Homo sapiens: one gene and its partners. The protein of the gene in region 2 purifies or fractionates together with the protein of the main gene of each other region. This does not show direct contact. Each region holds a gene or a part of one and is shown on either strand. Other genes may lie near its edges.

The links.
Region 1: the proteins of PLPBP (region 2) and HK1 fractionate together in Homo sapiens (co-fractionation; one large-scale study listed by BioGRID). This does not show direct contact.
Region 3: the proteins of PLPBP (region 2) and RAVER1 fractionate together in Homo sapiens (co-fractionation; one large-scale study listed by BioGRID). This does not show direct contact.
Region 4: the proteins of PLPBP (region 2) and MYEF2 fractionate together in Homo sapiens (co-fractionation; one large-scale study listed by BioGRID). This does not show direct contact.
Region 5: the proteins of PLPBP (region 2) and TRA2B purify together in Homo sapiens (affinity purification with mass spectrometry, with the first as the bait; one large-scale study listed by BioGRID). This does not show direct contact.
Region 6: the proteins of PLPBP (region 2) and GSR fractionate together in Homo sapiens (co-fractionation; one large-scale study listed by BioGRID). This does not show direct contact.
Region 7: the proteins of PLPBP (region 2) and KIAA1191 purify together in Homo sapiens (co-immunoprecipitation; one large-scale study listed by IntAct). This does not show direct contact.

What each region holds. Positions count from the first base shown.
Region 1 is NC_000010.11:69,321,847-69,325,346, reverse strand, and holds part of HK1 (hexokinase-1), read right to left. Parts: intron 1-3,500. UniProt on the Homo sapiens protein: Catalyzes the phosphorylation of various hexoses, such as D-glucose, D-glucosamine, D-fructose, D-mannose and 2-deoxy-D-glucose, to hexose 6-phosphate (D-glucose 6-phosphate, D-glucosamine 6-phosphate, D-fructose 6-phosphate, D-mannose 6-phosphate and 2-deoxy-D-glucose 6-phosphate, respectively).
Region 2 is NC_000008.11:37,761,160-37,765,459, reverse strand, and holds the start of PLPBP (pyridoxal phosphate homeostasis protein), read right to left. Parts: upstream 2,801-4,300; coding exon 2,702-2,800; exon of another isoform or gene 2,647-2,701; intron 2,534-2,646; exon of another isoform or gene 2,196-2,533; intron 1-2,195. UniProt on the Homo sapiens protein: Pyridoxal 5'-phosphate (PLP)-binding protein, which may be involved in intracellular homeostatic regulation of pyridoxal 5'-phosphate (PLP), the active form of vitamin B6.
Region 3 is NC_000019.10:10,327,030-10,330,529, forward strand, and holds part of RAVER1 (ribonucleoprotein PTB-binding 1), read right to left. Parts: intron 3,498-3,500; coding exon 3,431-3,497; intron 2,083-3,430; coding exon 1,613-2,082; intron 1-1,612. UniProt on the Homo sapiens protein: Cooperates with PTBP1 to modulate regulated alternative splicing events. Promotes exon skipping. Cooperates with PTBP1 to modulate switching between mutually exclusive exons during maturation of the TPM1 pre-mRNA.
Region 4 is NC_000015.10:48,154,296-48,157,795, forward strand, and holds part of MYEF2 (myelin expression factor 2), read right to left. Parts: coding exon of another isoform or gene 3,485-3,500; exon of another isoform or gene 2,832-3,484; intron 1-2,831. UniProt on the Homo sapiens protein: Transcriptional repressor of the myelin basic protein gene (MBP). Binds to the proximal MB1 element 5'-TTGTCC-3' of the MBP promoter. Its binding to MB1 and function are inhibited by PURA.
Region 5 is NC_000003.12:185,914,058-185,917,536, forward strand, and holds the end of TRA2B (transformer-2 protein homolog beta), read right to left. Parts: 3' UTR 501-3,479; downstream 1-500. UniProt on the Homo sapiens protein: Sequence-specific RNA-binding protein which participates in the control of pre-mRNA splicing. Can either activate or suppress exon inclusion. Acts additively with RBMX to promote exon 7 inclusion of the survival motor neuron SMN2.
Region 6 is NC_000008.11:30,725,047-30,729,323, forward strand, and holds the start of GSR (glutathione reductase, mitochondrial isoform 1 precursor), read right to left. Parts: upstream 2,801-4,277; 5' UTR 2,790-2,800; coding exon 2,484-2,789; intron 1,976-2,483; exon of another isoform or gene 1,847-1,975; intron 1-1,846. UniProt on the Homo sapiens protein: Catalyzes the reduction of glutathione disulfide (GSSG) to reduced glutathione (GSH). Constitutes the major mechanism to maintain a high GSH:GSSG ratio in the cytosol.
Region 7 is NC_000005.10:176,355,265-176,358,764, forward strand, and holds part of KIAA1191 (putative monooxygenase p33MONOX), read right to left. Parts: intron 486-3,500; coding exon 307-485; intron 157-306; exon of another isoform or gene 1-156. UniProt on the Homo sapiens protein: Potential NADPH-dependent oxidoreductase. May be involved in the regulation of neuronal survival, differentiation and axonal outgrowth.

The DNA of each region.
Region 1 (3,500 bases), on a different chromosome or scaffold from region 2:
GGGTGTGGTGGCTCACACCTGTAATCCCAGCACTTTGGGAGGTCGAGGCAGGCGGATCACAAGATCAGGAGATCGAGACCATCCTGGCTAATACAGTGAAACCCCGTCTCTCCTAAAAATACAAAAAATTAGACGGGAGTGGTGGCAGGCGCCTGTAGTCCCAGCTACTCAGGAGGCTGAGGCAGGAGAATGGCGAGAACCCAGGAGGCGGAGCTTGCAGTGAGCTGAGATCGTGCCACTGCACTCCAGCCTGGGCAACAGAGCGAAGACTCCATCTCAAAAAAAAAAAAAAAAAAAAAAAATACACATTTTTGTGACAATTAATTTTGACTCCACCTTACAAAGTTTCTAAGTATAATATCCCTGATGTGTACTGTTTACCAGAAGTCAATGTTATTTCCAGAAATCAAGACCAATCAAACTGTAAAATTTTTACCTATTTTTCTTTAAGATCAAATACAATGAACACAACCCAGTGTATATTAAGTGGTTGCAAAAGATCCCGTTGTTAAGGTTTATTAGGCCAGAAGGCAGTGGGCACCTGTCCTGCTACTCCAAACAGACTAACACATCCCCAGAACTGGGGATGGGAGCAGCTTCCTGAAGCACTTAAGGAGCTAACATCTGCAGCCTAGCTGTAAGCAGTTCCTAGCCTAGGGATTTCCCACCCAAGGTATGACCACACCATGCTGTGGGCCCTCATAGCCCATATGCTTTGCACATATAACACAGCAAATACTTCATTTTTTTTTAATTATTATTTTTGTTTAGATGGAGTCTCGTTCTGTCACCCAGACTGGAGTGTCAGCTCACTGCAACCTCCGCCTCCCAGGTTCAAGTGATTCTTCTGCCTCAGCCTCCCGAGAAGCTGGGACTACAGGCATGAGCCACCACATCTGGCACCTTTTTTGTATTTTTAGTAGAGACGGGGTTTCACCATGTTGGTCAGGCTGGTCTCGACCTCCTGACCTCAAATGATCAGCCTGCCTTGGCCTCCCAAAGTGCTGGGATTATAGGCATGAGCCACCACGCCCGGCCAGCAAATATTTTATGCTCCATGAGAACTGGGACCGTTTCTGCCTTGTTTATAGTTGTCACCCCAGCCTAGCACAGTCCTCTGCACATAATAAAAAAATCAAACATTTTTTAAAGAAATGATTGAGCTCCTGTGATCAGATTTGATCTTCAGGGTTTTCAAATCAATAAGCATACTTAGGGAGGCCAAGGCGGGAGGACTGCCTGAGCCCAGGAGTTCAAGACCAGCCTGGGCAATATGGTGAGACCCTGTCTCTATAAAAAAATAAAAACAAATCCATAAGCAGGTGCCAGCAGTCTGACCACAACTGATTCCTGGATGCAGAGGTATACAGCTCCCTGTCTTTATCCATGTCTTCCCTGGACCTTCTCAGGCATGCTCAGAGGTGATTCCAGTGGCTAAATCTGTCTGCCAGGAATCCCTGACTGCAGACACACACAGACAGTCCCAGTCATGCCAAATCAGTCTTGTAAGGGGAAAGCTGCCTATGTCTTCTCCGGAGAACAGTAGGAGCGTGGGAGCATGGCACAGCTTGGCCAGATGTGAAAGCACCTCACAGACACCCTGCCTGCCAGTTTATTCCTTCATGACATTCCCAAACTATCCAACCAGATAAAGTGATGGGGCTTCTCTTGGGAGAAACCCTAGGAGTATCTAAGGTAGGAAAGGCAGGGATTATAAAGTCAAGATTCACCAAGAAGCTCTCACTGAATATTTGTACAACATCAGAATTGAGAGGTTATGAGACACTTCTCATAATTTTCTTTCTTCTTTTTTTTTTTTTTTTTTTGAGACAGAGTCTCGCTCTATCATCCAGCCTGGAGTACGGTAACACAATCATAGCATCACAGCTCACTGTTTTGGGATCAATCTTTTGGGCTCAATGAGCCTCCTGAGTAGCTGTGACTACAGGTGTGTGCATGCCACCAAAGCAGGCTAAAAAAAATTTTTTTTTAAGATGAGGTTTAATTTTGTTGCCCAGGCTGACTTTTCATAATTTTTTCTTTTTTTTCTTTGCCACTGCAAGAACCCACAGATTTTTCATAATTTTCTTTTTTTTTTTTTTGAGACAGAGTTTCGCTCTGTTGCCCAGGCTGGAGTGCAGTGGCATGATCCTGGCTCATGCAACCTCCGCCTCCCCGGTTCAAGCAATTCTCCTGCCTCAGCCTCCCGAGTAGCTGGGACTTCAGGTGCATGCTACCACGTCCAGCTAATTTTTGTATTTTTAGTAGAGACGGGATTTCACCATATTGGTCAGGCTGGTCTTGAACTCCTGACTTCGTGATTCACCTGCCTCAGCCTCCCAAAGTGCTGGGATTACAGGCATGAGCCACTGTGCCCAGCCAGATTTTTCACAATTTTCTAACTATCACCTCTCTCACCCCTGAGCAATAATGAATGGGCATTTTTTTTTTTTTTTGAGACGGAGTTTCGCTCTCGTTGCCTAGGCTGGAGTGCAATGGCGTGATCTCGGCTCACCGCAACCTCTGCCTTCCAGGTTCAAGTGATTCTCCGGCCTCAGCCTCCCAAGTAGCTGGGATTACAGGCATGCGCCACCACACCCAGCTAATTTTGTATTTTTAGTAGAGACGGGGTTTCTCCATGTTGGTCAGGCTGGTCTCGAACTCCCGACCTCAGGTGATCCACCCGCCTCAGCCTCCCAAAGTGCTGAGATTACAGGTGTGAGCCACTACATCGGCCTTTTATTTATTTATTTATTTTTAATGCTTGCTTTTGCAGCTGGAACACATAGGCTCTAAGGAATGTACCTTGGGCAACCCTTTAATTGCTAAGCCTACTCTCCCCTGTCTTCCTGGGTCAAGTACTCAAGGACTCCTGAGTTCGGCCATTGGACAAATCACACTCTCTTCAACAGCACCCATTAACCAATTTATGCAGATGCCGTCTGGATAATGGGGTTCCAAACTGGGAAGTCAGACACCTGAACTGTTTCAACCCAGGATATATTTTTATGGAGTTGAATTATTGATGTGCCTCAAGGCAATGAGGAAAGAAATGACACCCTTTTCATGATCACCTACTAGTGGAAATCACTTAGCGTTATGGGGATCTCGCCCAGAGAAAATCCACTGGCATTTGCTCACCATTCTGACAAGCCTGGAGGAAAGGAAGTCTAATCTTTCTTTAGAAGCCAAGTTCTGACCTTCCTGGACCCATCTTCCCTTTCTAAACAAACAGAGCACTATGCAATCCTTCACCCTGCTCCAAGCTCCTAATGGCTAAACCGAGTGGAAGAAGCTGGCGAGATGAGATGCGTGTTTAAAGTTACTTAGAGGTCAAAGAACCCAGCCTCTAGCTGCAGAACTGGCAGATGTCTGGGATTCTGATGAATGGAATCCTTCACAAGCACACATATGCCTCCCTTTCCTCCTACAGGCACTAGAAGAGTGAAAGGAATATATGTGTTTTGTGCTTAGCTCAGCCTAATGCCAGTACACCCTCT
Region 2 (4,300 bases):
TAGATCCTGTAGGATAGACAGGCATTGATCTCAACTTGGCATTAGGTAAGATCCATTTTTTCAACACTGTAGGCAGATCAATATCAAATAGTGGTGATCATGATCAAATGTTTTTTAGGCGCATGGCATCTCAATCTATGCATCAATGTTAGCGATGTCAATATTCAGCAGAAGAAATGTCTCTCTCAGGAGAGCCGGGCAAGTTAAAGCAGTATTTCCTGTAAGTGTGGTCTTTGACCAACTGCATCGGCATCACCTGGGTGAGAATTTCCTTTTTTTTTGAGACAGAGTTTCACTCTTGTTGCCCAGGCTGGAGTGCAATGGTGCCATCTCGGCTCACCGCAACCTCTGCCTCCTGGGTTCAAGTGATCAAGCAATTCTCCTGCCTCAGCCTCCTGAGTAGCTGGGATTACAGGCATGCATCACCATGCCTGACTAATTCTGTATTTTTAGTAGAGACAGGGTTTCCCCATGTTGGTCAGGCTGGCCTTGAACTCCCGACCTCAGGTGATCTGCCCACTTCGGCCTCCCAAAGTGCTGGGATTACAGGCATGAGCCACTGTGCCCAGCGGAGAATTTCCTTTTTAACAATCTCTCCAGATGACTCTAAGACATACTAATGTTGGAGGCTTAAGAATCACTTCATTAATAGAAGGCTGCACTCTAAGTAAAAGAGAGGTCACTTCTGGCTTCTGAAACCCAAACGTTAGCAGTTTGGCGACTCATTCTAGTCCTGGTGTATCATTACACCATAATAACACTGCCCCATTTACTCTAAAAGTGGCCCACTTAGGTAACTAAGTAATTGATTGTTCAATCTGTGAATTAAGAACCAGTGGCATGGCCAGGTGAGCCACACGCCTGTAATCCCTGCACTGTGGGAGGCCGAGGTGGGTGGATCACCTGAAGTTACGAGTTCGAGACCAGCCTGGCCAAAAGGTGAAACCCCATCTCTATTAAAATACTAAAACTTAGCCAGGTGTGGTGGTGGGCATCTGTAATCCGAGCTACTTGGGAAGCTAAGGCAGGAGAATTGCTTGAATCCGGGAGGTGGAGGTTGCAGTGAGCTGAGGCTGTGCCATTGCACTCCAGCCTGGGTGACAGAGTGAGACTCCGTCTCAAAATAAAACAAAAAACAACAGTCTGGCCAACATAATGAAACCCTGTCTCTACTAAAAATACACAAAAAATTAGCCAGGTGTGGTGGTGTGTGCCTGTAATCCCAGCTACTCAGGAGGCTGAGGCAGGAGAATTGCGTGAACCCGGGAGGTGGAGGTTGCGGTGAGCCAAGATCGTGCCACTGCACTCCAGCCTGGGCGACAGAACGAGACTCTGTCTCAAACAAAACAAAACAAAACAAAACAACACAACAAAAAAAAAAAAAAAAAGAAAGAAAAGAACCAGTGGCAGAACTAAGGCTGCGACACAAAAAATTCTGGATTCAGGATCAGACCTATGTGACATCCTCTCACGACCACTATACAAAGAGCGGGGGTTCTATGCGTTCTGCTGCCACCCAATCCACATAGAAACAGTAAGAGAAGAGATTCGTTTATCCTTGCACGATTTAGTCTTCTTGTATCCATCATCCCCTGAAGTTTTCACAGAATCACAGTGTTCTCAAGGACGTGACGGAGTCAGATCAATTAGAAAAATGTCTCCTCTTCCTTCCTTCCACAGCGATGCGTAACCAGCCTCGTTTGAGTCCAAGTCGTGACTACTGGGAGTATGCTGATGATTGACGCTTTCCAGAGAGTTACCCGAACAGGCAGCCCATCTGCCTGAGAGTTTCCCTGAGAGAACCTCCAAGGTGATGTTTATTAGGGGAAGCCCTAGATTTTTCTTGGAGAATCACCGAGAATCACAGAATATTAACATCAGAAGAGATCTCAGAGCTTTCAGAGCTGAGGGCCGGAATAGTTACCTGACTTGTTCAAGGTAACGTCTAAGGAATAGTCAAAGAAAGACTATAATACAGGTCTTGTCTTCAGCCAGCATAAATGCTCGATCAGAGAAACCTGTGACCTCTCTGTTAAGGTCCGTCTCATTCCACACCATTCAGCTTAAACTTGCACTGAGGTGGGCAGATTTTGATTCTTGGTCTAATCAAAGTCCAAGAGGATGTAATATATATATACACAAAAGACGAAAGCTCCCCTTAACCGGCTTGGGATTGGACTTCTCCCTCCTGCCCCATAAACAAGTGCCGCTCTGATGCCAGCGAAGTCCGGCCAGTCCACCCTCACCTCGGCCTCCGGGCGGCACTGGCATTTCTTGGGCACTTAGCAGGTGAGACGCTGCCACACACGCGATCTCGGGCGTCTCTGGCCTCCGCGGGGTGCTCTTGTACCCCCGTCTCCCCTTACCATCCGTGGGCACAGGCCTGGCCCCCCTCGCATCCGCCAAGGCTATCGACCCCGAAACGACGCGGTGCGCAAGTGGCCACGACACCTAGGCACTAAGTCATTTTCCCGAGGTAGCGGTACCCTCTGCTCCAACGAAGCCAATCTCCAGAAAACCTAACAGACTCAAGGTAAGGAGGCTGGGGAAACCCTTCGCTAGCCTTTCGGTGGCCCTAGGCGGCCGACCAGTCCCGCCTCTCTGGGAGACCCCTCTGCGTCACCGTGACGACCCATTCCCACGCAGGTGTCCCTCTTCTCAAGGCGGCCGCCCACCGTCCCCACGCAGCCTCCTTCCTCACCCGCGGCCGCCGCGCCACAGCCTGCTGCACGCGCTCGTTCACCGCCCGCAATGCGCACCCGACTCCCAGCTCGGCCGACATGCTGCCAGCTCTCCACATCCCCCGGGGACCGACGCCGAGCCCCAGGCCCCCGGCAGCCCGTGGCTCACACCATCTTCCGGTTCCGCCCAGCTTGCGCCGTGTGAACCAATCATTGCTCATCATTGAGTCGTCTCACCCAATCAACACCCGTGCAGCGTGGAGGCCCGCCCCCAGGCGGCGGCCATCTTGGGGAGGTCACCCGCGAACCTGGAAATGGAGCCTAGGGGCTGAGGTTTTGCGCGCCTGGTTCCAAGGGCCACTCCCCGTGTGCTCTCCTCTTTCCTGCGCCTCAGCCGCTGCCGTCCCCCCACCCCCAAGGGACTTTTGTGAGGCAGAAACGCATCCTATACTCGGGGGATCCTGTTTCCTTTCAAAACGCCTTTCCAGGCTTGCCCGTTCCCGGCTTTCTGGGCGCGGGGACCAGAATTAGAAGCCACTGGGGCGGGAGCCAGGGCTTTTCTCTGTCAGATGGTTCTTGCGAGGAACCCCTAAGCGATACGAAAGGAAACTCTTCTTTCTTCTTTTCCCTAAAGACATGGCGTGATTCAAACGTATCGTGATTTTTGTCATCTTTCAGACCACTGCTGTCCAAGAGAAATATAACGCCATCCAACTGTGTAATTTGGAAGTTTCTCATAGGCACATAAGCTTAAAAATTTTAATGATATACTTTATTTAATCCAATATATCCAAAGTAAGATTTCAACATGCAATCAATAGAAAAACTAAATGCGATATTTTAATTCTTTTGAAAATCGTATGTGTTTCTGAAACCCGGTGTAGTGTTGACTTGCATATGTCTCAATTCGGGCCATCCCTATTTCGAGAGGTTAGCGGCCACCTGCGGCCAGTGCTGTCTCATCAGGGGACACAGGCAGCATGATTATTACTATTATTATTATTGAGACAGTCTCGCTCTGTCACCCAGGCTGGAGTGCGGTGGCCCGATCTGGGCTCACTGCAACCTCCACCTCCCGGGTTCAAGCGATTCTCCTGCCTCAGCCTCCCCAGTAGCTGGGACTACAGGTGCGAGCCACCGCGCCCAGCCCACAGGCAGCTTTAGATGGTCTAGCAGGAGCTCAGCACATTCAGTTAGATTCTTTTTTTGAGATGGGGTCTCGCTATGTTGCCCAGATTATCTGGGACTCGTGGGCCCAAGCAATCCTCCCACCTCCGCCTCACAGAATAGCTGGGACTACAAACGGGCACCACAACGCCCTGAGTTTGATTCTTGAGTCCCCTTCTGTGGGCAATATGGTTATAAACTTGATGAGGAGCCAGGCCATACAAATAATAATACAGAATGCTACATAGTCAGGTGGTGAAATAGTAGGTGCTACGGGCAAGGAGAAGGAGATCAATTTTGTTAAGGAAAGCACTCTTGGCTGCAATTTCTGTTGAAAGTTTCTCAAACATTAATTCAACTTAATGAAGTGGGATGCTATTATATTAGAGAAATGGCTAATGTTTGTTCTTCAGGTGGTCTTGTCTTGAGGTGATGGGGTTTATTAGAGCTTT
Region 3 (3,500 bases), on a different chromosome or scaffold from region 2:
AAAGTGCTGGGATTACATGCATGAGCCACCTCACCCAGCCTGTTTCTTGTTTTAAATATAGAGATGGTGTCCCACTATCTTGCCCAGGCTAGTCTTGAACTCCTGGTCTCGAGTGATCCTCCTGCCTCTGCCTCCCAACAGACACCTAGTTTAAATGGGGCACCAATACCCCACTTACACGAGAGGGACCCACTCAAGCCCACAGAGCTGGGGGTCCGAGCCCAGGACTGTCTCTCTGTTTTTGAGATAAGGGTCTAGCTCTGTTGCTCAGGCTGTAGTGTCATGGTGCTGTGGTGCGATCATGGCTCACTGCAGCCTCGGACTCCCAGAATCAGGCAATCCTCCCACCTCAGCCTCCTGAGTAGCTGGGACTACAGGCACACCATCATACCTATCTAATTTTTGTATAGAGAGGATTTCACCATATTGCCCAGGCTGGTCTCGAACTCCTGGGCTCGAGGGATCCGCCCGCCTCAGCCTCCCAAAGTGTTAGGGTTACAGGTGTGAGTCACTGCACCTGGCCAGGCCTACCCCTTTTAAGCCTCTGCACTGGCCTCCGCTCACTGGCCCAAGCTCTGGAGCTAGGCTGCGGTGTTCTGATCCCAGCTCTGCCAGACCCTGGCTGTTTAACTCTAGGCAAGTTACTTGACCCCTCTGTGCCTTGGTATCCTCACCTGAAAATGGGAGTGATACCTGCCTCTCAGGGTTGCTACAGGATGAAGCAACTGAAGGTTACGTACTCAGAGTCCACAGCGAGTGCTGGGGGAATGTCCCCTTTGGGATCTCTGGGGATCAAGACCTTCTGGGGGCTCTTAGAGAGTGAGTCTGGCCTGTTCTCGCCCCACTGCACCTGTTACAGGGCGAGGCACACACACAGAAGTGCCTGGCATGTGTGGCTTGAATGAACAAGGGACTGTTTTGCCAACCCATTGTGCAAGTATTGAGTCCCTGCTTATGGAGGAGGGAAACTGCAGATCAGAGAGCCAGTGACTGGCCCGAGCTCGAGGGCGGGGCTGGGATCTGGCAAAGCCTCAGTCTCTGACCTCAAGGCTCAAATAGACTGTGGGCTCCTCTGCAGCCTCCTCAATGCCTGGTCCAGGTCTGGGACCCCATGGGAGGTTTGACGAGGGTACCAGCGAATGAGGAGGTGAGTGGTGAGCAAGCCTCGAGATCCATAGTTACAAGAGTGGCCTTGCATGCATCTGATAGAGGGACAGTGAGGCCTGAGGCTGCAGAGGGATTCAAATCCCCTGGCCAGGTGTGGTGGCTCACGCATGTAATCCCAGCACTTTGGGAGGATCACCTGAGGCCAGGAGTTCAAGACTATCCTGGCCAACATGGCAAAACCCCATCTCTACTAAAAATATAAAAATTATCCAGGCATGGGGGCGGGGCGCCTATAATCCCAGCTACTCTGGAGGTTAAGGCAAGAGAATTGCTTGAACCAAAGAGGCGGAGGTTGCAGTGAACTGAGATTGTATCACTGCACTCCAGCATGGGTGACAAAGTGAGACTGTCTCAAAAAAAAAAAAGAAAAGGCAGATGACTCCAAAGACTCTCTCAGGTGCTCCGGGCCTGGCACCTGCTCCCCAATGCTCTCCACAGGGCTCACCTGGCAGAAGGTGGGGCTGTGGACAGCTGACAGCGCCCGGCACAGAGCGTCCACATCGTTGAAGCCAGGTGGCAGGCGGTCCACACAGAGGCAGCGGGAGTGGAGAAGGGCAGGCGTCAGTTGCCCGGCATCCGTCCAGTGCACGTAGAGGGTGCGTGGTCCCAGCGGCTTGCCCAGCAGGTCCGACTTGGCACGGGCAGCCGAGTCCTTCTTCATGTACTCAGCAAAGCCATAGCCCTTGGATTGGCCAGTGCGCTCACTGTAGACCAGGAAGCAGCGCTCCAGGCTGCCGAAGGGCCGCACCAGCTCCTCGAACTGCTGCTGTGTGAGGCTGGGGGGCAGGTTGGCCACACACAGCAGGGCATCCGTGGGCTGCAGCTGCACCGACAGTTCACGCTCCCGCAGGCGGCTCTGGTGGAAAGCATTGATTGCGGCCTCGGCCTGCTCCCCATTCAGCAGGGTCACGAAGGCTGCGGTGGGAGGAGGGCAGTGCGAGGTCAGCCGGGCCCTGAGGGCCTGCCCCTCCACCCCGCCACCCTGCAAACCAGGTGGGACCTCCAAATGCTGGGCATCTCAGGTGCCTGCTGATCTGAGCAGTTGCCAGCCTTGGCGACTCACACAGGCGAGAGCGCCTGCCATTGACTCTAGGCTCCACGAAGCCCACTCCCTCTCCCAGCCCTGCGTCCACCTGCACCCACAGCAGCGCTCACCAACTGTGGGCCTGGCTCTGTCCTAAGAACGCTGTGGGTCACTCGGGTGATACCAAGGGCAGTGGTTAAGCCCATGCTCACTGGGGCCCAGATTTAAGCCCCAAGCCCCAGGTGGCTTTGGGGGTATCAGTTTCCTCATCTCTCAAATGGATATAACTTAATCATCACAATCACCATTTTGCCAGAGAGGAAACGGGCCCAGAGCAGCACCCCTGTGCCCCGAGTAGGGGAGCCTGGACTTGAACCCAGGCAGCCGGACTCCAGAGGCCCACTCTACACACTGCCCACCCCTGCCACCTTTCCAGGCCACCAGTGCCCCTGAACCCTGCTGCCACGTGCTGCCCCAGATTTGCGATCCACCCAGCGGCCGCAGGAAGCTTTGTTCAAAACGATCACGCCACATCCATCTTGTGGCTTCTAGCTGCAGGGTGCAGTGCAGCCTGTGCGGGCTCGCTGACCTCCCCTCCCATCTCACCGCTGCCACCCGGACCACGCCAGGCACACTCCAGAGGGGCCTTTGCAGCTGCTGTTTCTTGAGCATGGAACACTGAGCCCCACCTCCTCACCTGGTTAACCTGGACCCACCCAGGTAGAAACCCTGTCTCTACTAAAAATACAAAAATTAGCCGGGCATGGTGGCACATGCCTGTAATCCCAGCTACTCGGGAGGCTGAAGCAGGGGAATGGGCTGAACCCAGGAGGCGGAGGTTGCAGCGAGCCGAGCTCGCGCCACTGCACTCCAGCCTGGCGACAGAGCAAGACTCCATCTCAAAAAAAAAAAAAAAAAGACCACACAAGCAGGGGTGACTGGCTGAGTGAGGCAAGAGGGGTAAGAAGAGAATGAACCCACGGCCAAACGTTGTCAAGAATTAGCTCAATGCCAAGCGAGTGGAGTAGGAAGAGAATCAGCCCGATGCCCAGTGTTCTCCAAGGAGAACATGAAGGCTGTCCCAAGATGACAGGATGACAGGCAGATTGGGGCAACCTGCCATGTTGGCCTGGGGGGCAATACTGGGCCTGAAGCTCAGAGCAGCAGACAGTGAGCCAGGCCCTCCCATCTTCAGGGATGGTCACTCCCTGCCCTGGCCCGCCCCATGGCCCCACAAACCTGTCCCTTTGTATTTGTCCACAAAACAGTATTTGAGCTCATAGTCACTGAGCAGGTCATGTACTTCCTG
Region 4 (3,500 bases), on a different chromosome or scaffold from region 2:
ATCAAACTAAAAAGTCAATAACCATGAAAGTATAACACTGAATAAGGCAAATATTATATTACCTAGTTTTCTCATTGATATAAATATTTATTTATATTTATATGGCACCTTAAGTGTTTCCACATCTATTGTCCATAGAAGAGGAAATTTTTGAGACCTTAGGTTGCTTGCATAATGACATGTAGCTGATTTTAAGACTTTGGTCTTTGCTGTCAAACTGCACAAACTGCACAGGAAGGACAGATTACTTATAAAGAAAGGACGATTCAACAAATAGCTGACTTAATAGCAACAGTGTAAACATGAAGACTGTAGAATACTTTCAAAGTGCTTAGAGAAAATAATTATCAATCTTTATACAAGTTAAACTATCTTTGAAAACATTTAAAACCCAAAATTGAGAGAATTTACTAATAAAAGATCCTCACTTAAAAGAGCTTCTAACATATATGCTTCAGGGGAAAAAAATTAGTGCCAGAGTCTATAAAAGCAGAGGAGTGATGACACAAGAAAATGGTAAATAACATTGTCTAATTTGCAGGACAGAAAAAAAAATAGTACAGAACTAATAATACAGAACTAAAATGCTGAGCAATGATAGTATAATTCAGTAGGAAAGTGACTGTATCCAAAGGTCACTCTACTATTACATAAAAGAATAATTATATTAACTTCAGGCTTCACAGAAATATTAAAATATCCAGAAGAATCCAAGATAGGAGTAAAATAAGTATTTGTAAGACAAAAAAATAAGACACAATATAATGGAAATTAATCCAAATGAACCAATACATGTGAAGAAATTGAACTCTTCAATTTCATGGTGAAAAAAACTATCAAAGTGATTTTTTTAAAAAGTCTAAGCCCAGCAATAACACCCTTTATAAGGGGCATGCCTGAAACAGTAAAAAAATAGGAAAAATGTACCAGGCAAGTACTAAACAAAATAAAGCTGCTGTACTTACATTAAAATGAGACCAAAGACTCAAAGTAACTACTAGAGAAAAAAAATCACCCAATAAAATTTTTAATTCACTAGGAAAATATATCAATTCTAATCTAGATGCACCTACTAAGCTAGCTTAAAAATATTTAAGTAAAAACAAGAAAAAGTAGACAAATCCACTATTCTATTGGGCAATTTTACCAGACACATAAGATAATAAGATAAACAGTGTTACAGCAGAAAAAGTATTGGATCTAAGACAATTTAAATGATTAGCAAACTTGATTTAATGAACACATATAGATCACTGCACTCACCAACTGTACCCAGAATACTTAAGAAAAATGTGCCATATGGTAGGCCATCCATAAGTCCAAATGAATTCCAAAGAATCACACTCACATATAAACCATGTTCTCTGACCACATTAAAATGAAAAAGTACAAAGGAAAAAAAAAAAAACTCATACATTTGGAAATTGAAAACTTCCATTTTCAAATAATACATGGCTCAATAAGAAATCATAATGGTAATTTTTTTTTTTTTTTTTTGAGACAGAGTCTCCCTCTGTCACCCAGGCTGGAGTGCAGGGGCACGATCTCAGCTCACTGCAACCTCTGCCTCCCAGGTTCAAGCAATTCTCCTGCCCTAGTCTCCTGAGTAACTGGGACTACAGGCATGCGCCACCATGCCTGGCTACTTTTTTTTGTATTTTTAGTAGAGACGGGGTTTCACCATGTTGACCAGGCTGATCTCGAACTCCTGACCTCAAGTGATCCACCTGCCTGGGCCTCCCAAAGTGCTGGGATTACAGGTGTTAGCCACCATGCCCGGCCCATAATGGTAATTTTTAAATACTCTAAAAACTGACCCATCATAAAAATGCTCCATAGCAAAACCCATGTACTAACTTTATAGTCATAAATGCTTATATTAGAAAGGAAAAGCTACCAATTTGAAGTAAGCATTCAACTTAAGGAGTTAGGACAAAAACACACTAAACCCCAATAAATAGAAGGAAAAAATAATAAGGCTAAGTGCAGAAATTAGAAATACAAAACATCCAAATTCAGTTATTTGAATACTCTATTAAAACCGACAAATTTCTAACAAAATTAACCAAGAAAAAAATAAAAATTGCATTCAGAATTTTTAAAACAGAAACATAGATGTAGCAAAAACTTAAGAGATAATTTAAGCCAAAATATTTGAAAATGAACAAAAACAGAAAAAATCCTTAGAAAAATAGAAATTACAAAAATTGACTCAAAAAAAAAAGACAGAAAATATAAACCATCAGTAGTTAAAAACTTCCCAGAAACAACAGAGGAAGGCCAGTTTTACACATAATTTCTAGCAAATATAAAGAGAACATATAATTCTGATAAAAAATAGCAAATACTTTCCAACTTAATACACAATAACTAAAAATTAAAATAACCTAAAAAACAGAAAAATGTATAAAATGTGGTATCAGCAGTTAAAATGAAGAAACTAGAGCTACATCTATCAACATAAATGAATCTCAAAAACAATTTAAAAAAAAAAGCAAGTTACATAATACATTATGATATCACTCAAACAAAATTTTAAATCCAACAAAACAATTCCCTATGTTTATGGATGTACAAATGTGTAGTCAAATTATTAAAACCTAAATGATAAATACTCTATCCATAAGTTGTTTCCTCTGGATAAGGCATAAGTTGAAAGATGGGCAAGGGAGATGGGGAAGCTCCATTTTACCATAAAATTTTATTTATTTTAAAGAAAAAAATCTACAACAAATATGGCATATGATAACTATATGAGTAATTTTACTTTTGTCTGTATATTTAAGATTTCTTATAAGAATACTTTAAAAACCAGAGAAGATGCAGTGAAATAGTAAAAACAATAGCTAATATTTATTGAGTGTTTACATTATGCCAAAATGATTCTAAGTGCTTTACATATATTAATTCATGTAATACTCATGTCAACCCCATGACGTAGACAATATTATTCTCCCCACTTTTCAAAGGAGGCACTGAGACACAGAGGCACTGAGACACATAATACAATAAGTATATTACACTGTTATAGTCATTTTGGAAAACAATTTGATAATACTAACCCATGAGAACTGTAAATCTACTTCAGAATATCTGTCTGAAGGAAGTACTCAAAAACATTACAAAGATTTGTGAACAAAAAGGCATGTGTTACTCTGTGGTTACTCAAAAGAAAAGTTAAAACACCTAAAATACAGAACAGTGAAATAGTTATGGAACATCTATATGATAGACTATTATACTACCAATAAAAATATTTGAAAAGAATCTTCAACATGAAAAAATGCTTATACTCTAATGTTAAACAAAAAATAATTCAAAATTATTTTTGTTCCCAACTATGTAAAAAATATACATAGCAGGCTAGAAGAAAATACACAAAAATGTTATAATGAGGTTACCCACAGATGGTGAAATTACAGAGGACTTTTTTTCCTTCAAGTGTATAAATTTACCAAACATTTTAGAATGTATTGCTGATTAGTCAGGAAAAGTTACCA
Region 5 (3,479 bases), on a different chromosome or scaffold from region 2:
TCAGCACTTTGGGAGGCCGAGGTGGGTGAATCACCCGAGGTCAGTAGTTCGAGACCAGCCTGACCAACACGGTCAAACCCTGTCTCTACTAAAAATACAAAAATTAGCCGGGCGTGGTGGTGCACGTCTGTAATCTCAGCTACTTGGGAGGCCGAGGCAGGAGAACCGCTTGAACCTGGGAAGTGGAGGATGCAGTGAGCTGAGATCGTGCCACTGTACTCCAACCTGGGCAACAGGAGTGAAACTGTCTCAAAAAACCACACACACACACACACACACACACACACCAACGAACCCCCCCCCCCACCAAAAAACAGTGATTAACTGGTCTCTTAGTACTAACGTGGGATCCCATTTCAATTCATCTCCTCTTGCCAGGCCAGTAAAGCTCTTGAAATAGTTTTAACTTCATCAACTGATTACTCATGGGGAGAAGGGATTATTTTGGGTCTTGTCTTGCTAGTAAGGGACAGAGTGAGTGGAATAGAACCAATCCAGTATTCTTGTCACTTTTAAGTCTTTACATTATATATTAAAGATTACACATAATAATCCTTTACACTATATACAATAATCCTTTACATTACTGTAGTAGCATTCTGGCTTTTTGATGACATTTGGCATAAGCTAGCATTAAGTCCAATCCTACAAGAGCCAATCAAAATCCACTGAGATGGCATGCTGAAGGAATATTGGAGGCGTGTCCACTGCTAATAAATCCAGCCTAATCCATCCTCAAAATTTCCATATAATTTACAGAAATTTTGATAATGCAAACCAAATCTTTTTATTTCTTCTCGGTGAAACTTCTAATTCTCAATTTCTCCTCCTGGGCCTTGCAGAATTGGAATCCTAGTCAATGGTGTAAGAGGGCTAAGAGCTATTAGTTTTATCTTAAGGCATATATTCCTTATGTAGGGGCAACAATGTAAACATTGCAGACCTTGAGCATTCTCTAACATGTAGTTAGATTTCCATAAGGAAATGTGCAAGCTAGATCCCTCTCAAGCGCACTTCACAATAGGATTCCTGCTATGAAAATCTGCTGTTGCTGATCTGACAGGCGGCGGAGCTCAGGCAATCCATGGCCAGGAGATCGGAAACCCCTGCTCCCAGGTCTACAAATCTTTTGACACAGCCTTATTTCCACTTGCTGGGACCCTGTTGATTTCCTGAGAAGTTTCACAAAAGCCTAGTATAAAACTATTTAACTTAGCAATCTTCCAAATGAACTTTACATTTGGTTTTAGTAGTCTCAGCCCTACAGCTATAAGAAATGGATTGTTTGTATTGGCATATAAAAGCCTCCAAGTCCCTTTGCCTTGAGGCAGTAACTTTAAGACTCAAATTTATCCTTTCCCATGGCTTTTGTCTGATTCAGCTGCCCATGGCAGCAGTTACCTAGGGGTTACCTACGGGTAACTGCTGCCTCCCTTTCATGAAACTGGCGACTAGCATTACAGCACATCAAAAGACTACCACTTTGTCTCACTACTTCTCAGTCTATCTCAACTTGGTAAAATTCCAAATTTTCCTCAGTCTTTTGCCTGTTAACACTCTTTGTAGCCATGTCAAATGGCTAAAATTCTTTCAAATCTAAAAGCCAGAAAACAACTCAAACTAGCCTAAAAAAGGAAACTTTCAATCAGCAGGATAAAGGATGGCTACACAACTAAAGGGCTAAAACTCAGGCTTTAGGATAGAAACCGAGGGTTATGTTCGAGATTATCAGGAGTGTGAACTCGCAAGCCATCAGTTAACTGATGGGGAGAGGTTTGGTTGGGGAGAAAATGGTGGAGAATGTAGTTACTTCAGGAAAGGATGCCTGTATATACTACCACGATAAAACCAGGTTTCTCAGCCTTTAATGTATCCATCCATAACACAACCCCCTCTGGGACCACACCCTAAAACTCAACTTTATATATAAATACTACAAATTCTTGTTTCAAAACTCATTGAGAACAATTTGAAATAACCCATCAGGCATATACTAAGTTGTTTCCACATGCTTATCAGAAACAAACCTAAGGGTAGTTCTCTAAGCATATTAATTTACCACAAGTTGGCAAACACTGAAAACACCCTGGACAGTAAGTTTTACAAATTAAGACCTGCCAATACTGCCTATGCTCCATTACTGGTATTTTCCATCACCCAGGTACCCAGATTTGAGACATCATGATCAAGAGAACTGTGGACTAAGATCACCTAGGTTCAATTCAGATCGTGGCATTGCCACTTAAACAGCTATTTGAACTAAGGTAAGTTACTCTACATCATTTCATTGCTAAAGATTATATGTAAAGTTCTTCCCAAAGTACCTGAAACATACTAATACCTAGATGCGATAAAGGTTAGCAAGGCAACAAAATAACCCACCTGTAGCAACATCCCTACAATTGGTCATGAAAATTACTTAAATGCAAAATAATAAGAACATGTATTAAAGTACCCGCAGTCTAGTTATTTACTGTAACTCCATCCCCAAATGGAGATCACTCTAATACCTAGTTATGCACTCTGAATTTTCCAGGAATACAGAAATTCATCCCCCCCTCAACCCAGCCCAAAATAGCAAAGATACACCTCAGCCCAAGGAACACACTGCCCTAACGATTAAACTACAGAAGAACTCTAATTATAATAGAACAAGAACACTTCTTTGTGAACAGCTGCACCAACATTTTTCTTTTCATTTGCGTTTATTTAAACACAGTTCTCAAAACATTTGAGTGAAATTGGGCCTCCTTTGGTAAGCAAAGGACCTGAAAATAATATTTAAAAAATGAACAGGCAAAGTCTTCAGTTCATCCATGACAGGTATAGTGTTCCCTTATCATGTACTTTGAAGCACCCGGTTTTTTCATATAGTCTAAAAGCTAGAAGAACAAGAGTGTATTTGTGGTGGAATGTATTGTCACTTGCTGATAACTAGTTGAAATACCATTATCCCCTTGTAACACCTTTAAGAAACAGCCTTTTAAGGCATACACTGTGTAACTCTTCGTATTTCCTGCTATACATATTACAGATTACATAAAAGCCGACAAATCCACATTGATATAAGCATTAAGCACTGGCTGTATTTTAAGATTTTTAGTTCTAATACTAGCAGTACAGAGTTACAGAGCATAATTTTAAACACTTAGTTGCAGGTATATAAGTATGGTATGTTTCATGGACTGGAGGAAAACGGGCATTTGTCTTTAAATTTACTACTGACAATCTGAATAGTTCTGCTAAGCATTGATATGTTAGAAAGAAAAGTAAAAATCAAACTGTTTATTGTTGCTTTTTGCCATTTGGTAGCATTTTACACAGGCTTCGATCTTCAGAATACCCTGGATTCAGTAGAAAAACCTTTTAAATGAAGTTTTGTACAATAGAAACTTCTCAGCAGTCAAAATTTAGACTGTAAAAAAATACATGCAAAACATACTTTTCTGAAAACACTTAACTTGGAACAAAGCACCAAA
Region 6 (4,277 bases), 7.0 Mb from region 2:
TTTTCTTTCACAACCACAAAATTCCTTAAGGGAAGGGACATGTCTCACAAATGTTTATATCTATCGTTTTCTCCCTACCCACCCCCAATCCCAGCACTTAAAATACAAAAAATGGGACAGGAGTGGTGGCTGATGCCTGTAATCCCAGCATTTTGGGAGGCCAAGGCAGGCCGACTGCTTAAGCACAGGCATAAGAGACCAGTTTGGGCAACATGGCAAAACCCTGTTTCTAAAAAACAATAAATAAAATAAAAACAGGCCAGGCGTGGTGGCTCACGCCTGTAATCCCAGCACTTTGGGAGGCTGAGGTGAGCGGATCACAAGGTCAGGAGTTCAAGACCAGCCTGGCTCTACTAAAAATACAAAAGTTAGCTGGGTGTAGTGGCACCTGTAATCTCAGCAATTTGGGAGGCCGAGGCAGGAGAGTTGCTTGAACCCAGGAGGCGGAGGTTGCAGTGAGCCGAGATTGCACCACTGCACTCCAGCCTGGGTGACAGAGCAAGACTCCATATCGAAAAAAAAATAGATAAATACATTTTAAAAATAAAAAATTAGCTGGGTGTGGTGGCTCATGCTTGTAATCCAAGCACTTTGGGAGGCCAAGGTGGGTGGATTACCAGAGGTCAGGAGTTTGAGACCAGCCTGGCCAACATGGCAAAACCCCATCTCTATTAAAAGTACAAAAACTAGCCGGGCATGGTGGCATGCACCTGCATTCCCAGCTACTCGAGAGGCTGAGACGGGAGAACTGCTTGAACCTGGGAGGCAGAGGTTGCAGTGAGCCCAGATTGCACCACTGTACTCCAGCCTGGGTGACAGAGTGAGACTCCCTCTCAAAAAAAAAAAAAAAAAAAGAATTCATAACAGGAAGGTAAAGTGGGTGAACCTCTGAAGCACATTATAACATAAGTAGAGAAAGAGGAAGACAGAGAAAATGTGGAGAGCAGAACAGAAGTGAGAAGTGATCAAGTACTCTCATGAGGTGTGGGAGGGGGGCACTTAGTGGCACCCCACAATCTGCCTTCTGGAGAGACAGATTTCTAACCTTCTGTCTGGACTATGGTGTCAAAGTGCAAGTTGATAATTAACAGAGATTTTTCCTTTCTCTTCATCTCCATGTTCATCTCCAAGGCACTGAACAATGAAGTCAACCTTTTCATAACTGTCCATTTTTAGTTTCATTCATTGCACAAGTGCTTATTGAGCAAGGGATTTTAAGGTGATAAGAGACACACAAACACAGAAGCCCATCCCTGTCCTTAAAGAGCTCCCAATTTGACATAATTTAAATATTCATCTCCAAAGGAATTTAGAGAACCTATCCCAAATCCCAGGTTCCTCTTGGATACAGCATTTTAATCGTCAACACCCAAATCTTGTGATAGAAAAGGGCGGGCACACCAATAACTTGGAAACAACATTTATTTTTAGAATGAGTGCAGTGGCTCAGGCTTGTAATCCCAGCACTTTGGGAGGCTGAGGCGGGAAGATCGGTTGAGTCCAAGAGGTTGAAATCAGCAAGGGCAACATAGCGAGACCCCCATCTCTACAAAAAATAATAATAATTAACTAGGCGTGGTGATTAGCCCCCTGTAGTTCCAGCTACTCAGGAGGCCAAGGTGAGAGGATCCCTTGAGCCCGGGAGTTCGAGGCTGCAGTGAGCTATGATGGCCACTGCACTCTAGCCTAGGTGACAGGGCAAGACCCTGTCTCAAAAAACAAACACAAACAAAAACCCTTATTTTCAAAAATTATGAATTTTGTAAATCTCAGGATTTACATCCCTCTGTTTTTAGTTTTGCAATCCACATAAAACCAAGACAAAACAAAAGCTCTGAGAACTCACCTACTCAAGGTCGCCTTGGCTGCAATTCAGATCACCCGAAAATCCCAAAGCCCAGGCTGCACTTCAGACCAATTAAGTCGGGAAACATCCCAAAGCCCAAGTGCACCTCAGACCAATTAAGTCGGGAATCCAGGCACCCTCAGGTGATTCGAATGTGTAGCCAAGGTTGACAACAACCGCTATAAATCATTCTGCCCTTGAAACGGGAGAACCAGGATCTACATTTTTCAAGAACCAGGATCTATGGCACCGTCACCCTCGTCCCTACACACAGGCCACCAGCAATGTTCCCAGATGCAGTTTTGTGTTTCACGCGGTCAAGAACAGAATCCAATCCTCTCCCACTTGGACAAGTGAGGATGGAGGAAGGTTAATCTAACCCGCCCCGGCCCTGGTCAATATCGCATCCGTGCGGAAGCAGACGCTGGCTCGGCTTTGCGGGCCGCAGAGAAGCCCCCGGACGCCTCTCTCTCCTCCACCTGCTGGGTTCCTGGCTTCGGAATGGGGAGTTGCGGGGGTGGAAAAGAGGAAAGCCCAGCGCCGGGGGACAGGATCGCCATAGGAACGAGCACAGGCTGTCCCCCGAAAGACCGAGACAAAGAGGCGCCCCCCGCCCGAACAAACCGGCGGTACTCACGCAAGTGCCACCCAGCTTGTGGCTCTCCACCACGGCGGCCCTGGCACCCAGCTCGGCCGCCCTGCGCGCGCTGGCCAGCCCGCCCGAGCCGCCCCCGATCACCAGGTAGTCATAGGAGGCCACGGCGCCAGCAGCGGGCGGCGGGCCCTGCGGCTGCGGCTCCTGCCTGCAGGCCATGGCACGGGAGAGGGCGCGCGTGAGGGCCGCGGGCTCGGGCAGAAGCAGCAGGAAGCCTCGGAAGGCGCGCGCCGCCCGCCGCCAGCTCGGTCCCGCGCCGGCGCTCAGGGCTCGGGGCAGCAGGGCCATGCACGCGGAAGTGGCGCGCCAAGTGGGGCGGGCGGCCCGGGGGCGGTCCCCGGGGTAGGGGGGCGCGGGCCCCGGGCAAGCGCAGCCTCACGGTGACTAAGCATGCGCCCGCCGCTAGGCAAGACCCAGGAGGATGCCCAGAGGCGGGGCCGCCTCCCAGTTCCCCGCCCCGGTGGCGGAGCCTGAGGGGTTTCTCCGCCTCCGTTCTCACCCCGGCCCCTGGATCCCGAGCGGCGCCTGCCGCGTGTAGCCTTCTGAAGTCCGGTGGATCGAGGCGAGGAACGGTGAACGTCCTCTCGTTTCAGCTGGCTTTTCCCGAGCTGGCCCCCTGGGGAGTTGCCAGTGGCACGGCTTCTCCAGGAAGAGAAATTTGCCTCTATTCGAAGGGTTGTTTGTCCAGGTTTGTTCCAGAGACCACTTTTGTTTGTTCTTGCTTTTTCTTTGAGACTGGGTCTCACTCTCCCCCAGGCAGGGGTGCAGTGATGCGATCTCTGCTCACTGCAGCCTCCACCTACTGTGCTCAAGCAGCGATCCTCCCTCCTCAGCCTTCCCGGTAGCTGGGAACTACAGGTGCCCGCCACAGCGCCCAGCTAATTTATTTATTTATTTATTTAATTTTTTTTTTTATTTTTTTTATTATTTTTATTTTTTTTTTAGAAATAGGGTCTCACTATGTTACCAGGACTGGTAGGGAACTCTTGGCCTCAAGCGATTCTCTCACCTCGGCCTCCCAAAATGCTAGGATTATGGTATGAGGTCACCACTTCTCCTGTTGTCCTTCTCAGTTTCTCCCCAACCTCCCCTTTTCCCTAGTTTATAAGACAGGAGAAAAGGGAGAAAGCAAAAAGTTGGAAAGAAACAGAAGTAAGATAAATAGCTAGACGACCTTGGCACCACCACCTGGCCCTGGTGGCTAAGATAATAATAATATTATTAACCCCTGACCAAAACTATTGGTGTTATCTGTAAATTCCAGACATTGTATGAGAAAGCACTGTAAAACTTTTTGTTCTGTTAGCTGATGTATATAGCCCCCAGTCACGTTTCCCACGCTTACTTGATCTATTATGATTTTTTCACGTAGACCCCTTAGAGTTGTAAGCCCTTAAAAGGGCTAGGAATTTCTTTTTCGGAGAGCTCGGCTCTCAAGACGCGAGTCTGCCAACGCTCCTGGCCGAATAAAAAACCTCTTCCTGCTTTAATCTGGTGTCTGAGGAGTTTTGTCTGTGACTCATCCTGCTATATTTCTTGGTTCCCTGACTGGGAAGCGAGGTAATTGACGGACAGTCGAGGCAGCCCCTTAGGGGGCTTAGGCCTGCCCTGTGGAGCATCCCTGCGGGGAACTCCCGCCAGCTTGAGCGACGCGGATCCTGCGAGCGCTCCTGGGTAGGCAATTGCCCCGGTGGAACGCCTAGTCAGAGCAGTGCGTGGCAGGCCCCCGTGGAGTATCAACGCAGTGGCTGAACACCGGGAAGGAACAGGCACTTG
Region 7 (3,500 bases), on a different chromosome or scaffold from region 2:
ACCATCTATTGGGTACACTGTACACTATTCGGGTGACGGGTGCACTAAAAGCCCAGACTTCACCACTATACAATTCATCCATGCGAACAACACCTCGGGTAACCCTAAAGCTACTGATTTTTTTTTTAACAAAATAAATAAAATCTTAAAAAAAAAAAAAAGACAGCTATAACTGAGGCACAGAAAACACATACAGGGAGTGGTTGCTGCCCAGTCCCATGGGCACAGGGAGCCACTGAAGGCTTCTGGAGCAGAGGAAGGACAAAGGGGTTGCGTATGCCAGAAATGGCCAGCAGGGTCAGATACCTTGGCGAGGTGCTGATACTTGCGCTCTGGAATCACTGGCTTCCAAGGGACGCTGCCCATGTCCGATGGAGGAGGAGTCATGGGCGCAGGGTCCTCGAGGGTATCATCATAGCTGACTGCCCGGCGGTATATCCCGATGGGCAGGGACATCTTGCCTAGAGGCGCACTAGCCTCAAGAGCTAAGAACAGAGACACCTGTCAAGACAGGTTCAGCAACTGGACATACTAGCAGCTTTAAATTAATCTACAGGAAGGAAAGCTCTGAAATACTCTTGTTCTTGAACAGAGCAAAATAGCTTGTTTTGGAGTAGCTAATCCCATCCAGGAAAGGCAGTGGTACCAATCCCTTCCTCTATGCCTGACACCTTGGGTGGTCCACTTAACCCACTCAGCCGTCCTAATCCTTTTTTTTTATTATTTGTTTAGAGACACAGTCTATGTTGCCCAGGCTGGAGTGCAGCGGCACGATCACGGCTCACTGCAGGCTCAACCTCCTGGGCTCAAGTGCCTCAGCCTAGCGAGTAGTTGGGATTCTAGGCATGTGCCACCATGTCCAGCTAATTTTCATGGATCAGGAAACCTGAAGTTCCATTTAAAGGTACTTGACCACAACTTCAAAGTACAGTTTGGAATCCAATCCCAACCAAACCTATCTGATTTCAAAGCTGTGTCCTTTATCCCACAGAAGCCACCCCCTACTGCAATACTAAGGCTCTCAGTTCGTGCAAGACTGAGGATATGAAATGACCGAGGATACGAAGTTCTCATTCCCATTTCATAGATGAGGAAACTAAGGCCTAGGGGTAAAGTGACCTTCCCAAGTTCATTCAGAAAATGGCTACCTGGGGCTCAGCCAAGGTCTGTGAATCCTCTACCTTCCTTTCCTCACCAAAGAAAACACCAGCACTAACAGAAATGTTTGTGGCATCACTGTTCTGTATGATTTATTTAAACAGTAGAGTCACTTTCCATCACAGAAATTATTGACAACCACTCTCACAAATCACCAGCTGATCCTGCCATTCCTGTCCACTGGAACTGACGCCCAGCATGTCGGGTTGTGATGCAGCCACCCCATTCAAGGGCACTCTCAGCTGTGCCAGACCAGGGAGCCAAGTTCATTGTGTTTCGTTTGCTAATCCTTGCATATCAGAACTAATGTCCAGAACCTACCTGAAAGGTAACATTTTCCTGTGGCTAAAATCATATAATAACACTCTCTAAGACATCAACCTGCCTGGCAATAAGTCCAAAACCACAAAAGGTTTCATTTAAACGGCAAGGGGACCAAGCAGCTATCATTATTATTACTATTGCTATTAGTAATAATTAACAAAACCATAGAAATAAAAAGAGGATTAGAGGTTGCCAGGGAGTGGGTGGGGGGAGTGAGGATACGACTGCTAATGGTACGAGGTTTTCCTTTGGAGGTTATGAAAACGTACTGCAGTTTGGATGGGTGTGGTGGCTCACACCTGTAATCCCAGCACTTTGGGAGGCTGATGTGGGTGGATCACCTGAGGTCAGGCGTTCCGGCCTAGCCAACATGGTGAAATCCCATCTCTACTCAAAATACAAAAATTAGCCAGGCGTGGTGGTACGTGCCTGTAGTCCCAGCTACTTGGGAGACTGAGGCAGGAGAATTGCTTGAACCCAGGAGGCGGAGGTTGCAGAGAGCCAAGATCGTGCCACTGCATTCCAACCTAGGCAACAGAGCGAGATTCCATCTCAAAAAAAAAAAGAAAAGAAAAGAAAATGTGCTGCAATTGATCGTAGTGTTGTTTGCACAACCCTGTGAATATACTAAAAATCACGACATTGTTCACTTTCAGTGGGTGAATTTTATGATATGTGCATTACATCTCAAACACACACACAAGCAAATAATAATTACTAAGTCTTCCTCCTTGCTAGACAATTACATCCCTCATCTTATCTAATCCTCATGAAGCAGATATTCTTCCCATTTTCAAATTTTCCATTTTCACAATCAACTTGCCCAATATCACCTAGCTTGAAAGAGTGTGCTGGGAACTGGAACACAGACCTGAGCCGGTGCACACACTCTGCATGCAACACACTACAAAGCATTCACTGAATGGGCACAATCCTATGGCTCGCGACGGCTACACGGAGTTTGTGGTAATCACAGCAACAATGAAAGACAAACTAAAACGGAGCTGATGATGTTAAGACTAGAGATGGATCTATATTGGGGAATACGGGAGACTTGGGGAGCAATTTCAAAAACATCTTAAAGACTCCCACTGAACAGCCATCCTAAAACAAATAAAGTCAGCTAGTATTTACTGGAAAATATGTTCATATAAAGACAGACCAAATGCATTCTGGGCAGTAAATACATATTTATCACTGATTTTTAACTCCTGTTTTTACATATTTTGTTTAATCTTCACAACCCCGAGAGATAGGAACCATCATCTTTCTTCATCATCATACTTTACCGAGAATCAGAAATTAAGCGATTCAGATGTAATTAAAAATCACTTTCCTTTCTCATAAAACAATTCAAGTAGTCATCAATGGTGTCAATAACCCAGAACTTGACTCATTAAGGGTTGCTGTGAGCATTTTCATGATTAAGTTCAATCTGCCATTTAAGCAGGCTGGTGCCTTTTTACCAAGACTTCCATCCCACCTCCCCATCACCCCCAAAAAGGTGAGTTTAATCACTTTGGTACATACTACAAGAACTGCACAACTTATTCTGAATTATTATTTGATAACTAGGAAAGTAACAAACTTGTCATAATACCCTTAAATGAAGTGACTATTCTCTTTAAGTTAAAGTTTCATACTATGGCTGAGCGGCTAATAAAATATTTAAATGATGCCAATCTAAGGCTAGGCGTGGTGGCTCACACCTGTAATCCCAGCACTTTGGGAGGCCAAGGTGGAAGGATCACCTGAGGTCAGGAGTTTGAGACCAGCCTGGCCAACATGGAGAAACCCTGTCTCTATTAAAAATACAAAAATTAGCCGGGCGTGGTGGCAGGCAGCTGTAATCCCAGCTACTCGAGGCTGAGGCAGGAGAATCACTTGAGCCCAGGAGGCGGAGGTTGCAGTGAGCTGAGATCACACCACTGTATTCTAGCCTGGGCAGCAGAGTGAGACTCAAAAATAAAATAAAACTGGCTGGGCGTGGTGGCTCACACCTGTAATCCCAACACTTT